Linked DNA regions of Homo sapiens: region 2 is linked to region 1. Evidence: fine-mapped expression QTL. Tissue or cell type: whole blood. Region 1 holds a variant in brackets; the other region holds the start of a gene. All regions are shown on one strand. Distances are from middle to middle. Region 1 overlaps RAB2A (RAB2A, member RAS oncogene family). Region 2 holds the start of RAB2A (RAB2A, member RAS oncogene family).

Region 1 (8,333 bases):
GAGGGACAGTGACTCCGACCCTGAGTAAAGGAAGAAGGTAAGGTATTGGTAGCAACTCTAATAGCAGCATTAATAAGTGTAGTGATTTGTATTAATTACAGAGTGGTAATGATCTGTGTATATCCAAGATATCCACACCAGGCCTTAAAAAACAATGTTTTGCACATCATTAAACAAATATTCATTAAACAAATTCATTATTCATTAAACAAATATTCATTATTCATTAAATTATTAAATTATTCATTTTTCATTAAATATTTCATGAATACTAGCTCAACAGATCATTCTAGGTGCTTTGGAGGATGAAAAGATGAATAGGAATACAGATCTTGCCCTGAAAGAACTTTGTTTATAAATGTTGTAAAAACAGGCATTTAAATAACTGTAGTGTAAGATAAAAGTTAGTACATAGTAATTGTCATTTCAGAGATAACATATTCTGAAGTCCATTAAGGGAAAGATCACATCCAGAGAAATACTAGAAGAGGTGGAGGGTGTGCATGGCTTTCTGTTTGTTTAGGAAAACAAGTAAATAACTCTCCAAAGTCTCAGGGTAATTCTTTGTGTTGGACTTTTTCTTTTTTCTTAAGCCTTCTCAAACCTATCAGGTTTAAGATTCTAGTTAGTGATATTTCCTACTTGCGATAGCTGAGAAAATTTGAGGTGCAAGACTTGACCAACCTTCTCTTGAGTGTGTTCGAGGATGGGAGACTTGAATGCATGTGTCAAAAGATGTCCATGGAGAAGCAGGTAATAAAGATGCAAGAAAAACGAGTTGCTAGATCTCCAAACAGGGAGAGAGGGCTGAGATCTAGTTTTGGTTGGTAAAGGAATATAGTACTTCTCTAGCATTAAAGAAAGGATAAACTACATGGACATCTAGAGGAAACTTCAAGTGAAGAAGTGATCCATGTTGGATTTTTGTCTTTGTTTGTTTAATTAAATAATAATACTGTTAAGTTTTTACATAGTGCTTCCTACATGTTTTCAGTGCTTTATATAGGTTAACTGGTTTAATTCTCACAACTCTTGTTGTGAAGTATGTATTGTTCTTATCCTCATTTTGAAAATGATTGCGTGCAAAGGCCAAGTAGTTTTTCCAAAATCACCCAGGTAGTGCTTTTAACCACTACACAATGCTGACAGTTCAATCAGCATCTCTGGAGGTGTGAGGCCTGAGCATCAGTTTGGGTTGCTTTTTGTTTTTGTTTTTTGGGTCTTTTTTTTTTTTTTTTTTTTTTTTATTGATCATTCTTGGGTGTTTCTCGCAGAGGGGGATTTGGCAGGGTCACAGGACAATAGTGGAGGGAAGGTCAGCAGATAAACAAGTGAACAAAGGTCTCTGGTTTTCCTAGGCAGAGGACCCTGCGGCCTTCCGCAGTGTTTGTGTCCCTGGGTACTTGAGATTAGGGAGTGGTGATGACTCTTAAGGAGCATGCTGCCTTCAAGCATCTGTTTAACAAAGCACATCTTGCACCGCCCTTAATCCATTCAACCCTGAGTGGATACAGCACATGTTTCAGAGAACACAGGGTTGGGGGTAAGGTCACCGATCAACAGGATCCCAAGGCAGAAGAATTTTTCTTAGTACAGAACAAAAGGAAAAGTCTCCCCTGTCTACCTCTTTCTACACAGACATGGCAACCATCCGATTTCTCAATCTTTTCCCCACCTTTCCCCCCTTTCTATTCCACAAAACCGCCATTGTCATCATGGCCCGTTCTCAATGAGCTGTTGGCTATACCTCCCAGACGGGGTGGTGGCCGGGCAGAGGGGCTCCTCACTTCCCAGTAGGCGCGGCCGGGCAGAGGCGCCCCTCACCTCCCGGACAGGGCAGCTGGCCGGACGGGGGGCTGACTCCCCCCACCTCCCTCCTGGATGGGGCGGCTGGCTGGGCAGAGGGGCTCCTCACTTCCCAGTAGGGGCGGCCGGGCAGAGGCGCCCCTCACCTCCCGGACGGGGCGGCTGGCCAGGCGGGGGGCTGACCCCCCCACCTCCCTCCCGGACGGGGCGGCTGGCCGGGCGGGGGGGCTGACCCCCCCACCTCCCTCCCGGACGGGGCGGCTGGCCAGGCAGAGTGGCTCCTCACTTCCCAGCAGGGGCGGCCGGGCAGAGGCGCCCCTCACTTCCCGGATGGGGCGGCTGGCCGGGCGGGGGGCTGACCCCCCCACCTCCCTCCTGGACGGGGCGGCTGGCCGGGCGGGGGGCTGACCCCCCTACCTCCCTCCCGGACGGGGCGGCTGGCCGGGCAGAGTGGCTCCTCACTTCCCAGTAGGGGCGGCCGGGCAGAGGCGCCCCTCACTTCCCGGACGGGGCGGCTGGCCGGGCGGGGGGCTGACCCCCCCACCTCCCTCCCGGACGGGGCGGCTGGCCGGGCAGAGTGGCTCCTCACTTCCCAGCAGGGGCGGCCGGGCAGAGGCGCCCCTCACTTCCCGGATGGGGCGGCTGGCCGGGCGGGGGGCTGATCCCCCCACCTCCCTCCCGGACGGGGCGGCTGGCCAGGCAGAGTGGCTCCTCACTTCCCAGTAGGGGCGGCCGGGCAGAGGCGCCCCTCACTTCCCGGACGGGGCGGCTGGCCGGGCGGGGGGCTGACCCCCCCACCTCCCTCCCGGACGGGGCGGCTGGCCGGGCAGAGTGGCTCCTCACTTCCCAGCAGGGGCGGCCGGGCAGAGGCGCCCCTCACTTCCCGGATGGGGCGGCTGGCCGGGCGGGGGGCTGATCCCCCCACCTCCCTCCCGGACGGGGCGGCTGGCCGGGCAGAGTGGCTCCTCACTTCCCAGTAGGGGCGGCCGGGCAGAGGCGCCCCTCACTTCCCGGACGGGGCGGCTGGCCGGGCGGGGGGCTGACCCCCCCACCTCCCTCCCGGACGGGGCGGCTGGCCGGGCAGAGGGGATCCTCACTTCCCAGCAGGGGCGGCCAGGCAGAGGCGCCCCTCACTTCCCGGATGGGGCGGCTGGCCGAGCGGGGGGCTGACCCCCCCACCTCCCTCCCGGACGGAGTGGCTGGCCGGGCAGAGGGGCTCCTCACTTCCCAGTAGGGGCAGCCGGGCAGAGGCACCCCTCACCTGCCGGATGGGGCGGCTGGCCGGGCGGGGGGCTGATCCCCCCACCTCCCTCCCAGACGGGGCGGCTGGCCGGGCGGGGGGCTGACCCCCCCACCTCCCTCCCGGACGAGGTGGCTGCCGGGCAGAGACGCTCCTCACTTCTCAGACAGGGTGGCTGCCGGGCAGAGGGGCTCCTCACTTCTCAGACAGGGCAGTTGCCAGGCAGAGGGTCTCCTCACTTCTCAGACGGGGCGGCAGGGCAGAGACGCTCCTCACATCCCGGACGGGGCGGCAGGGCAGAGGTGCTCCCCACATCTCAGACGATGGGCGGCCGGGCAGAGACGCTCCTCACTTCCCAGATGTGATGGCGGCCGGGAAGAGGCGCTCCTCACTTCCTAGATGGGATGGCGGCCGGGCAGAGACGCTCCTCACTTTCCAGACTGGGCAGCCAGGCAGAGGGGCTCCTCACATCCCAGACGATGGGCGGCCAGGCGGAGACGCTCCTCACTTCCCAGACGGGGTGGCGGCCGGGCAGAGGCTGCAATCTTGGCACTTTGGGAGGCCAAGGCAGGCTGCTGGGAGGTGGAGGTTGTAGCGAGCCGAGATCACGCCACTGCACTCCAGCCTGGGCACCATTGAGCACTGAGTGAACGAGACTCCGTCTGCAATCCCAGCACCTCGGGAGGCCGAGGCTGGCGGATCACTCGCGGTTAGGAGCTGGAGACCAGCCCGGCCAACACAGCGAAACCCCGTCTCCACCAACCTTTTTTTTTTTTTTTTTGGTGTGGATTGAAAACTACTAATGGATAGAAAATGATTGGGGATTGGAGCTACTTCACATGGAATGGCAAAGGACGGCATCTGTAATGTGGAGTGTCTGTCTACGTGGAGAGAAAGGGGGAGGATGTGCACAGGCCTTGTTCTTGGTGCAGAATGAAAGCCATTGGCAGGAGATAGTTTTTTCCCCCCATTTCAAATTGGGTTTTTATCAGAGATCCCAGCATAAATTTTTTTAAAAGAGTAGATAGTTGCTTTTTCTTTAATTTTCCATTTCTGTTGGAAAAGTAGCAACAATAACAAAAATAACTGTTTATAGGGGATTCCTTTCTAGAAGTTGTTTTTTGGTAAAGATTTAAATCCAGGCTTTCTATTCGTCCTCCTTTTGAAAAAAAAAAAAAGTTTTGGAATTTGCCAGCCTTTACTCAAAAGCCATTTTTGTTTGTTCTCATTCTGTTTAATTCTGTGATTAAATAACAAACATGGGCT[A/G]TGTCTCAGTCTTTTTTTTGCTGATTCCTCTTTACATGTGGCTTATCTTCATCCTGAATGTCTTTCTTGAAATCTGTACTCACATATTCACTTGTCTACTCAGCTTTGTCTCTTGGGTGACTAATAGACATCTCAACTCAAAATAACCAAACTGGAACTGATGATCTGTCCACTCTCAATCTGCTCTACCTACATCTCCCATCTCACTGAACTTTCTGTTTGATCAGGCAAAACATTGGATCATTCTTAACACACTTCTCTTTCTCAAAAAATTCACACTGTCAACACATTCTCTTGGCTCTGCCTCACAAATTCAATTTGAACTACCCCCAATGCAACCACCCTGGTCCAAGTCACCATTTCTAGCCTTATTGAGAAAGCTCCTTACTGGTTCACGGTTTTTTTTGTCTTTTTTTTTTTTGAGGCAGGGTCTCACTCCATCATCCAGGCTGAAGTGCAGTGGTGTGATCTCGGCTCGCTGCAACCTCCACCTCCCAGGTTCAAGCGATCCTCCCACCTCAGCCCCCATGTAACTGGGACTAAGGTGTGCACCACCATGCCTGGCTAAGTTTTTTGTATTTTTTTTGTAGAGACAGGGTTTCACCATGTAGTCCAGGCTGGTCTTGAACTCCTGGGCTCAAGTAGTCCACCTACCTTGGCCTCCCAAAGTGCTAGGGAAGGCATGAGCCACCACACCTGCCTTCTTTGCTTCTACTCTCATCTGCTTCTACTTGTAAGTTCTCATTGTAGCAGCCAGTAGGCCTTTTGGAATTTAAGTAAAATTATATTACTTCTCTGCTGAAAACTCTCCAGTGAATCCCCTATTTTATCTCAATAAACTTACAGAGTTCTTTAGGTTCTGTGTGATTAGGCCCCTGTCATTCCTATATCCTAGTTCCTAGGGGCATGACTCTCCCTGCCTCCTGTGCTTTAGCCACATTGGCCTCATTGCAGTTTCTCTAAAATGTGCCACCTTAGAACTTTTCTTCTTAACTGTTTCCTTGGTGTGGAATAATACTCTTCTCTCAGTGATCCACTGGCCTATTTCCTCACCTCCTTTAAACCTTCATTTAAATCTCACCTTCTCCATGAGGGACTACCTGGTTAAATAACACATCTTCCTCCTTCCCTCCACCCCAGCGTTTCAGGTCCTACATCCTTGCCCTGCTCTGCTTTTTCTTTTTACCATAGCATTTAACACCCTGCAACTGATTCTATTTCTCTCCCTCTTCTGTATACATGTACACATTTGTGCACACATGTTGGGAAAAAACAAGTTTATAGTCTTTCATCCCATTCCACAAGTTTGTGAGCCTTTGTCTTTGCACTGGAGATACATGTGGCTAATGCTGAAAATGAATGGATCATGGTTCATGCTTTTAGGGAGCTTAAAGTGTAAACAGACATAGTAATAGTGTTTTACTATTGATGGTAGCAACAAACATTTGTTGAATTCTTTTTTGAAACTTTACTATGTGCCAGACACTGTTTTAAGACTTACAGTGGATTAACTTATTTAATGTTCTCAAGTATCCTATTAGATAGGTGTTATTAACCTACTTCTTACAGGTTAGGAAACTGAGGCACTAAAAAGATAACTACAGATGGTCTCTGTCTTTTGATGGTTTGACTTAGCAATTTTTCAACTTTACAGTGGTGCAAAAGTGACATTCAGTAGAAACTGTATTTCAGATTTTGATCTTTTATTTTTACTATTTTTATTTTATTTTAGAGACAGGGTCTTGCTTGTCACTCAGGCTCGAATACAATGGCTCAGTCATAGCTCACTGCAACCTCAAACTCCTAGGTTCAAGCAATCCTCTGTCCTTAGCCTCTTGAGTAGCTAGGACTACAAGATGTGCTACCATGCCTTGATTTTTTTTTTTTTTTTTTTTTTTTGGAGACAGAGCCTTGCTGTGTCGCCCAGACTGGAGTTCAGTGGCACGATCTCGGCTCACTGCAGCTTCCACTTCTCGGGTTTAAGCAATTCTCATGCCTCAGCCTCTTGAGTAGCTGGGAGTTTTTTTTTTTTTTTTTTTAAGATGGAGTTTCGCTTTTGTTGCCCAGGCTGGCACGCAGTGGCGCAATTTCGGCTCACTGCAACCTCCGCCTACTGGGTTCAAGCGATTCTCCTGCCTCAGCCTCCTAGTAACTGGGATTACAGGTGCCTGCCACCACATCCAGCTACTTTCTGTATTTTTAGTAGAGATAGGGTTTCACCATGTTGGCCAGGCTGGTCTTGAACTCCTGACCTCGTGATCCACCCGCCTCGGCCTCTCAAAGTGCTGGGATTACAGGTATGAGCCACCACGCCCGGCCTAATTTTTAAATTTTTTTATACCTATGGGGTCTCACTATGTTACCCAGGCTGGTCTAGAACTCCTGGCCTCAAGTGATCCTCCTGCCTCAGCCTCCTAAAGTGCTGGGATTACAGGTGTGAGCCACCATGCTCAGTGACCTATCACTTTTATAAGTTATAGGGAAAAAAATTCTCTATATTTTCTTCGTATTACTATACTTTGTGATATGATGGATTCATTGTTTTACATTTCTAAACAGATACTCAGATGTTAAATTTATCCATGAAAAGAAAACGTTATTAAAATTTTAAAGCTCTAAATAATAAATCATCAAGGCCAATTAGTAGAGTTAGAAAGAAACTTGATGATTGTCTGGCTCAATTCTCTGATTCTCTGTACATATAGTAAAATTATGTCCAAAAAGATGAAATAATATATGGAAAGTTACACAGTTGGTTAAACCCCTCCCATCTTCTAAAGGTAGTGAGGAAAATTCAGAATTAGCTGTATATGCAAATTTTCTCTCTCTTATCAGTCAACAATTTAGACAAGTTTTCTAGTAAGAAGGGTATGAGGACAGACAGAGGCTTGCTTTGTACCTGCTGTGTGCTAGGGACACACTCTTGCAAGTGATTTCTGTCCTAATAGAGCTGGGGGTCACGTTCTGTTATGGGAGAGCCTATAAAGCATGATACAATTAATAAAAATAATAGCTTTATTTGAGGGCCTTCCTGTTCTACACACTGTGCTTTTTGAGAGGTGATGGTTGTTTGTGAGATTCAGTATCTGGGATAATAAGATAGGCGTTGAAAAAAGAAAAAGGGAAAAAAGTCAGCATCCAACTGGAGAAGCAGAACCAGCAGGATATATGTGTGCATGTGATTAGATAGATAGAGATGGGAGTTGAAATTGAAATTGATTGTTTATTTGGTTTATGTGATTTTGGGGGCTGGACAAGCAAGTCTGAAATCCTCAGGACAGGCTGTAACCCACAGGTATGGCTAAAGTTGCTGTCCACAGGTGGAATTATTTCTTCTCTCTAGGAAGCCCCTGTCGCACTTAAAGTCAGCTGATTATGGATTTTTATTACTTGTATGATGCCTTCACAGCAACGCCTAGATTAGTGTTTGATTGCATAACTAGGGTAGGGCCTAGCCAAACTGATGCATCAAAAAGACCGTCATTTTGTTTTCATTTTTATTGAAGTATATTATGCACACAGAAAAATGCATATATACTAAGTGTATAGCTCAAATAATTGTTATAAACTGGACACACTCAGGTAACCAGTACTGTACAGGGTCCCTTTTGTATCTATATATTTAATTTGCTTCTTATAACAGTTCATTGAGGTGTAGAGATTTCCTCCATTTTATAGATAAGGATTCTAAGGCTCAGAAAGGTCAAGTACCCTGTGTTACAGCTAATAAGTGACAGAGCTGGGATTCTAATCAGGGTTTTGAGGCATATATAAAGTATTATGGGAGCCCAAGGCTGAAATTGATTCATTCATTGGCGTATATGATTGTGGGGGCTAAACCATTAGTTTTGCTTGGGGATTGGTAGAATCTTTGGAACAGGAATGTTCTACCAAAGAGGGTATATGAAGCTTTGAGTTGTCTTAAAGCATGAATTTAAATTTGCCAGGGAGTGAAAAGTTCCTTTATAAAAGGTACCAGCAAAAAGATATGATATCATTTCAGGGGACAATGGTTTGTTGT
Region 2 (8,333 bases), 33 kb before region 1:
TCCCAACCACCTTCTCCCATTCCACTCCACCCTATCCCTCTTCCCAAAGCCTGAGAGTAATTAAAACCAAAGAAAATATAAACATGAAAGTTTAGTTGGGAGAAGCAAATGCAAACTTCTAATATAGTATTGTACTCAAAAATGTCATGGAGAACTTGATTAGGAGACACTGAAGAATGTAGTGCTACAATCTTGAAATTTCACAGTTATGACCTTCAGACCATATATGATGTAAGGCTGAGAGACAGAGTTACCACAACACATCCTAAGAGACTGAAAATAGCCGAAAATCAAACTGAATGGAAAATTCCAGGAAGTATACTATATTTAATGGAAGAGAGGTTTATTTCTGTTATTTTGTCTGGGGGACTTTTCTTGAAAAATATGTTTGGATTTTTATGGGCTAAAGAAAATGTTTTAAATGAGGTTTATGTGATTTTTATTTATACCCTGTATTTTTTCGAAGATTTAAGAGATTATAGGTTTATAGAAAATATAACAAAATATTATGAATCATACATAGGAAAAAAGGTAGAGACATAAAATAGAGCCAGGAACAAACTTAATTTTAAACCATGAATTTATATAGTGATTAGGCCTTTAGTTCCTCAAGTTAATTTCTTTTTTTTCTTTTTAATTTTCTGTAGAGACAGGATCTCACCATGTAACCCATGCTGATCTTCTTGAACTCCAAGGCTCAAGGGATCCTCCAGACTTTGCCTCCCAAAGTGTTGGAATTACATGCATGAGCCACCGCACTCAGCCCCTCAAGTAATTTCCAAAAATTATGCAGTGCAAAGAGTTTTATGTATTAGGTATACATTTTTCATAATTTACACAGTATTTTCACATACATTATCTCATTTGATCCTAAATGGACTTTGTTAAGCAGTTATTATCCACATATTCCAAATAAGGAAACTGAAGCCCAGAGAAGAACTTGAAAATCCTGTTCTTCAAGGTGGGAGAATTGCTTGAGGCCAGTAGTTCAAGACCAGCCTGAGTAACAGAGGGAGTCTCCATCTCTCCAAATAATAATAATAATAATAAATGATATAGGCGTGGTGGCATGTGCCTGTGATCCCAGCTACTCAGGAGGCTGAGGCAGGACAATCACCTGAGCCCAGGAAGTCAAGACAGCAGTAAGCCATGACTGGGTCACTGTACTCCAGCCTAGATGACAGAGCAAGACCTCCTCTCAATCAATCAATCAATCAATCAGAACAATATGCATTTGACATCTATGGCCCCTGCATTTTCACGAGAGGATTACTACCTTCTTTACAGATGGCTTTAGATTTGGAGGCTGGCTAAGCATAAAATTAAAAGACGTCATGCTTGGAATAGCCCTTTTAAGAAACACTTAACTCCTTTACTTAATAGACAAGTGCACTGAACCACTCATAATTTTTTAAATTATTTTTATTTTAATAATTATTTTATTTATTAAGACACAAGGTCTCAATCTATAGCCCAAGCTGGAGTGCAGTCGCACCATCCTAGCTCACTGCTGCCTCAAACTGCTTGGCTCAAGCTATCCTCCCTCTTCAGCCTCCCAAGTAGCTGGGACCGCAGGCACAAGCCATCGCAACCTGTGCTCTGAAGCTTTAAGAGGCCAAACGATTCCTCACATTCATCCGATCAGTTACAGGTAGAGCCAAGACCAGAAGCCAGGTATCCTATTTTCCTTATAACACATTGCCTCTATAGCTTTATATCCATTTCTATGATTTTTGTTACATACCCAGTTCTGACCATTTCCTGTCACAATTTCCTTTGTCTACTAAGTAAAGTTCTAAATGCATGGTGACATAACATACAAGGCCCTACATAACCTGGCACAAGAGACCTCTCCAGGTACTCTCCTCCTCTAACAGTGTAGGAATACTCCTGACTCCTAGGATGCCAGGCATTTGTATAACATCCTAATAGAGTTGTGCTGGTGAAGGAAGGCCACATCCCTCTATCTTGTGAGAGTGAAGACTTGAGTTTCTCCATCACCAAGGAAGACTTGGGTGAAGGCACTCAAGTGGGAGGGACAAAATGACATCTGAAAACTGGAGGCCTTGGGCAGGGACCTCCCCTTCCTCAAACTAAAGGTGAATGAACCAAATTTTGCGATTCCAGGTAGCTTTTCATGTCAAATTTTCATGTCAAATTCTTCCGTGCCATCTCTGACCCTTTAGTAAAATCCCCTCCAAATATTCCAGAAAAACCTTGTGAGTTCATATTTGGCAAGGCCATCCAAAGCATGTTAGCAACCCAGCATGATGGTGTCAGTACTAATTACATAATGAGAGGCCCCAAAGAGAAGAGTATTAGGCAACAGGAACGAGGGCCACTAAATCCCAATCGCTTTTCCCCAGCAATGATTCTCCTTCAATATGAGGTTATGGGTTATGAGGATATGAGTTAGTCAATTAGCTTCCTTATGCAACTTCAAATTCCCTGAACAGATCCAGGAATTTTGCACATTCTGTTCCTTGTCCATAAACTTTGGTTCCCCTCCCCAAACTGTTGTTCTTTCGACAAACTCTATACATAATTCATATTCCTGGCTCAGAAATCATAATCTCTAAGTAACCTTTCCTGACACCCTATTCTCCACCTCCTCTTCCATAACCTGTGGTCTTTTTGAACAGAGTGGTGACATTTTGGGCTGGATGACTGAAAAAGCAAAGTAGAAAAACAGAACATAGAACATACAGGGCCTCCAGTTGCTGTGCCTGGCGGTACATGAAACATAGTATTCAATAACTATTCTTTGAATGCACAGTCATTTTGTTTTTTCCTTTAACAGTATTTCCTAATAGGTAACTCATGAACACTGCAAAAAATGTCAAACTGCACAAAAAAATTCAGGGAAAAGTACATTTTCCCCCCAATCCCATTCCCTCCTTTCTCTTAATACCAGTTAGCTTTCCTTTCAGATTGATTATGCATATATGGGTATGTAAATGTTTTCCCACTATTTGTTACACATAAAAATTATATACAATTCATATATTACATATGGTGCATGTTATATACACACACATAAACAGATCATCTCGGTTTTGCTTAACCTAAGTCAGGCTTTTTTTTTTTTTTTTTTTTTAGAGCAGCCCTCAGAACCAGGACAGGTTCAGAGACTTTATTTATTTTTTATTTACTATTATTATTTTGAGACGGAGTCCCGCTCTGTCGCCCAGTCTGGAGTGCCGTGGTTCAATCTCGGCTCACTACAACCTCCACCTCCCAGGTTCAAGTGATTCTCCTGCCTTAGACTCCGAGTAGCTGGGATTACAGGCGAGCACCACCACGCCCGGCTAATGTATTTTTAGTAGAGACGCGGTTTCGCCATGTTGGCCAGGCTGGTCTCGAACTCCTGACCTCAGGTGAGAGCAACGTAGTACTCCACTGTGCGTGCATACCATGATTTACTTTGCAGTCCCAGATTTACGGTTTCCAATTTATAAATACTGCCATTTTCACCTTCAAGCCCCGATGCCAAACACAGAAATACCAGGCCACCCCCACCCCCTCGCCGTGTGCCTCCCACATTTTCACACACATTTTCAGGAGCCCAGGGCGCAGCCTCACACCGAACGCCGCCTCTGCCGTCCCCTCACTTGCCCCGTGCCCCCACCGCAGGGCTGAAGGCGACGGAACCGAGCCTTTGTACCCCCACCAGCCCCGTTCCCTGGCGTCTCCCGGCCGCCGGGCTCGCCCGCTCAAACGTGGCGGAACAACCGGAGCCGGGCCCCGCCCTGCTGGAAGACAGGGCGGACCGGGCAAGGCAGGCGCGGGGCGGGGCGGGGCGGGGCTCCGGCTGGCGGGGCGCGGCCAGCGTGCAGGGCTGGGCCAGCGTGCGGGGCTCCTCCCCTTTCCTCCGGCGGCGCCGGCGGCCGCAGAACTTCCGGGTCGGCGCGGAGGCGGGGCGGAGGCGCCGCGGCGGCTGTTATTGTTCGGCTGGGCTCGGTCGGGCGCTGTCTCCCTCGGCTCTGCGGGTGTCAGTTCGTCCGGCTTCCTCACAGCCCCTCACTCCCGGCGGCTGACAGCAGCAGCGGCGGCGGCGGGCGGCGCCTGGCGTTTCGAGGCTGAGCGGCACCGGGGTTGGGGCGCGGAGGAGGAGCAGCAGCGGGAGGAGGAGCCGTGTGCCCTGGCACTGAGCGGCCGCGGCCATGGCGTACGCCTATCTCTTCAAGTACATCATAATCGGCGACACAGGTGAGGGCCCCGGGCGCGGCCGGGCGGGTGTCGGCGGCCTCCGGACCCGGGCTGAGGGGCAAACGGCGTCTGGCGGTGGCGGGGACGCGGACTCCACCCGGCGCCTCCCTCCTGGCCGCGCCGCTCCATTTCCGCAGTGCTGGAGCTGGTGACGTGGGCACTGCGAGCGGCCGCGGCCTGGCCAGGCCCGGTCTGCGGCCCCCGACCCGGCCAGTCTTGCAGCTGAGGGCCGTGGCAGCCGTTTGCGACGCCCGATTCAGGAAGTGTGTGACAGGAGGGGAGGCCTAGCGCAGGGCCGCCGGGGCCCGACTCACATGACTGCACCCCACCCCCAGGGCCCCTTGCGTTAGGTCTCTTCGCGGCCCCAGGAAAAAGAAGGAGGGAAACCTAGGGGAGCAGAAGGTGTTGGGGCCCGGGTCTTGGTTCCTGACCAGTCCAACCTTCCTCCACCAGCACGCATCTATCAAGGCCTGGGCAAGGCGCTTTTTGGCGTGGGACAGGCAGCCGAGAAAGAGAAAAGGAAACCTTTAAAATATGTATTTTATATATATACATATATATAAAATATGCTTTTTTAACACCTTCAACTCTCACGTCAGAATAAGTCACATCTCATTACTTGACGGCTGGAGAATCCCTTTCGGGGTTAGGAAAGCATGAACGAGTTCTGTGGACTTTTGCCACGTGTGAACTGGGGTTATATAGTAATGTAAAGTCGTTCAGTGCTCTGGGTGTGTACTTAGGTATGTGTATGTTGAGGACGCTGATGTTTTAGATATGTCAAGTCCGGTGTCACAACTGCTAATTTTCAGGTGAGCTCATGTCCATGAGCTGAAAGAAATTCAGTTATTCTCACTTAAAATGACGTCCTAGTATATTTCACAGAAAAGTAAACAGACTCTTCGTAGATATTTTTAATACCTGTGATTTGGCATTACTTTGAATCTAATAATAAACATAAAGATTGTTTAGATGTTGCAACTATTAATATACCAGAGTCTGATTTCAGTGGTTACTCTTGCACAACTTTGGACCCTTTGCACAACTTCGGTCATGTAAGCAGCAGTTTGTAGTTGAACTAATGATGTGGCAGGTTCTATAAGTAACTAAAGAAGCATGTTGGCCGGACGCGGTGGCTCACACCTGTAATCCCAGCACTTTCGGAGGCCGAGGTGGGGGATCACCTGAGATCAGGAGTTCGAGACCTGCTTGGCCAACGTGGTGAAACCCCGTCTCTACTAAAAGTACAAAAGTTAGCCGGGCGTCGTGGCAGGCGCCTGTAATCCCAGCCACTTGGGAGGCTGAGGCGGGAGGATCACTTGAGCCCGGAAGGTGGAGTTTGCAAAAAAAAAAAAAAAAAAAAAAAAAAAGCATATTTATTGCTGCCTGAAAGAAAAAATTTCTGCTAGATACATGAGTTTTCAGCAAGGTTTTCTGATGCGTGCGTGCGTGTGTGTGTGTGTGGAAATTGGATTTGTAAACTTTAAAAGAAAAATGCTGTGGTGTATTTGGAAGAAGGAGAATTCTAAAGTCTTCTGGCAAAATTTCATTTAGGCTGTAAAAACAAGATTGGAGAGGAATGCCACATTAACTGTAATATGAGTGGGTTTGAGAAATAGAAGCTTGTGACTGTGGCATTTGGCTATCTCATTAGTGGTGAAAATTCAAATCAGACTTTGCTGGTTGCCTTTTTTCAGTTTTTTATTTGAGGCTGTACTGTGGATAAATAAAGTATTGTGCATGGAGTAGTGGGGCTACAAATCCTAACAAGTTAATGCTCTGTTCTCTTGGAATTTGCTCTTATCCAAAAGCAGTCCCCACGCAATTCAAAGGGAAGACACTTCTTTCTTGTCATTGCTGCTGATACGACCTAGTTCAGGAACAGAATTCTTGACACTGTTATAGTCTGCAGCAGTACTTCTCCCTACTCCAGTTCAGCCAGTGTAGTTTACTGTCAGTTTAGTCATCCTGAAGCATGAATGTCAAAAGGCTACTCCTGTTTGCTCACAATTTTTAGTTTGACCTTCAGTGAACTCTATATTTTAGCCCCTATCTACATTTCTCGCCTTCTTTCCCGCTATTCCCCACCTTGCTTCTGCCATTGAGTCCCAGTGACTGATTTTGGTGTTTTTTTCCTGGGCACTGCTAGTCTCTATTCTTAGAGTGCTTTCCGGCACAATCTCTCCCTGTGGAAGATCCATCAGTCCTTCAAAGTCTTATCTGAGTTTTCCGTAATGCCTTCACAGTCAACATATATTAAGCTCTTATTGTGTGAAGATTTTCACAGTATCCTGGCTGAAAGTGACTACTCCGTTTCTGAATTTATGTTTCTCACTTTGTGTCATTCTTCTGATATTGATCCCAGACTTTTCTGTTGTATAGATACTTGTATAGGCACCTCTATTATGTAGGTACCTATTATATACTTCTTGAAGTCAGAAAAGATGTTTTGTATGGCTCTGTATTTCTTTCAGGAAGAGCGTAGTAGAAGGTAGGCCCTGTATATTTAACTAATAAGAGAGGAGCCAAACAGGCTACTATATTCCTGTTTGTATATATTAATAACTTAACAGAAGTGGTGTCGTTGTTGTTGTTGTTGTTGCCCAGTTCTGCCACCTTCTTGCTTACTAATTTGGGCAAAATCCTTTACCATATTTCTTTAATGCAGAGTGTACCCATAGTTGTAAGATACACTCAGTGTGGCCCTCCCCTAGAAAAGATGACTTTAAAATCAGTAATGTGAGATCCACTTTGATTTTTTAAAAAGTCAGGGTCAAAAACATGCATCTTAGAATGAAGGAAATCACCTAATTTTTCTGTTTCCCTGTTTCCGTAACCTATAACCTTCTCTCAGTATGTGGGATAAAATGAGGATAAATGTGAAAGTACTTTGATTTCTCAAAGGAAAGGAACAATGCACATTTTTCCTTTTCAGAATTCCCTCTTTAATAGAAGAGGTTTTAAAAACTTTTACATGATCATGATGATACTATTGAGCTGTTTTCTTACTGTAAGACTAAATGCAGTTAAAATGTAGCTTTAAATTTTTTCCTTGTTCCTGTCTTGTTTCTGAATCATTTAGTAAAATGTGTCATTTAAATCTAGATGTAAAGTGGAAAGTGGTTTTTAATAAGCAGTTAATTATCAAGCATGGAGAGAAAAAATACGAATCTATAGTAATTTTTCTTCTGAAATTCTAGCATCTGCCAACCATTTTAACCTTATCACTAACCCTCCCTGCTGCTCAACGCTCAGCAAGGTAAACAAAGGCACAGGTTTGGTTGTGTTCTTATTTCTGCTAATATCTGAAGCACTCCTTCTTGTTCTTCCCTATCAAAAAAAGTTATGTCAAAAATTTTTGTCACCTGGCCAACTCCTTTTTATCCATTCTTTTGAGAGTTTAACAAATCCTACCACTCCCTGTTGCATTTTATGCTGGTCCCCTCCTCTCTTCCCTCATTCTGTTTCCCTTCTCTTCAGTCCCAGTCCCACTTACATTTTATTTTTTATTTTTCACTCTTATGTATATACCCACCACTTCCATTTTATTTTATTTTACTTATATTATTTATCTATCTATTGAGACATGATCTCTGTTGCCCAGGCAGGAGTGCAGTGGCACTATCACGGCTCACTCACTACAGCTTCAGTCTCCTGGGCCTAAGCAATCCTCCCACCTAAGTCTTCCAAGTAGCTGGGAACACAGGCACATGCCACCATGCCTGGCTAATTTTTAAATTTTTGTAGAGATGGGCTCTCACTGTGTTGCTCAGGCTGGTCTCAAACTCCTGGGCTTAAGCCATCCTCCCACTTCAGCCTCCCAAAGTGCCAGATTACAAGCACAAGCCACAGCTCTCAGCCCCACTTGCATTTTAAATTATCTTTTTAGTTAGGAAGGTCTTTGCCTTTGTCTTAGATGCCAGGGTACACCATTGAGTGTCAGATTTATTTAATAGTTAAGTGGATGGATCCTTGAGGGGAGGCACTAGGTGATGTTTCAGCTGAAATTAGAATGATGAGTAGGCACCGCCAGAGTGGGCATGGGGGAATGTCTGGTATGTAGTTGAAAGTTTATTTCTGGCTCAGGAGAGAGTAATCTGGGATAGAGACTTGGGAGCTAATAA

What was found.
Region 2: it holds the start of RAB2A, and the variant in region 1 is fine-mapped to the expression of RAB2A in whole blood (INTERVAL, PIP above 0.99).

Annotation. Positions count from the first base shown.
Region 1 is chr8:60,545,670-60,554,002 of GRCh38, forward strand. The region is part of intron 1 of RAB2A (RAB2A, member RAS oncogene family); the gene reads left to right. Among named protein-coding and RNA genes, the nearest start is that of RAB2A, 33 kb to the left of the region's middle. The variant A/G (reference allele first, on the strand shown) is at 4,313.
Region 2 is chr8:60,513,045-60,521,377 of GRCh38, forward strand. It overlaps RAB2A (RAB2A, member RAS oncogene family), which reads left to right and starts at 3,943. Exons shown (of 8, transcript NM_002865.3): 1 at 3,943-4,209. The coding sequence starts at 4,164. LOC124901949 (a long non-coding RNA gene) reads left to right here. Exons shown (of 3, transcript XR_007060922.1): 3 at 648-3,754. RefSeq lists enhancers at 3,091-3,951, 5,187-5,376 and a silencer at 3,527-4,396.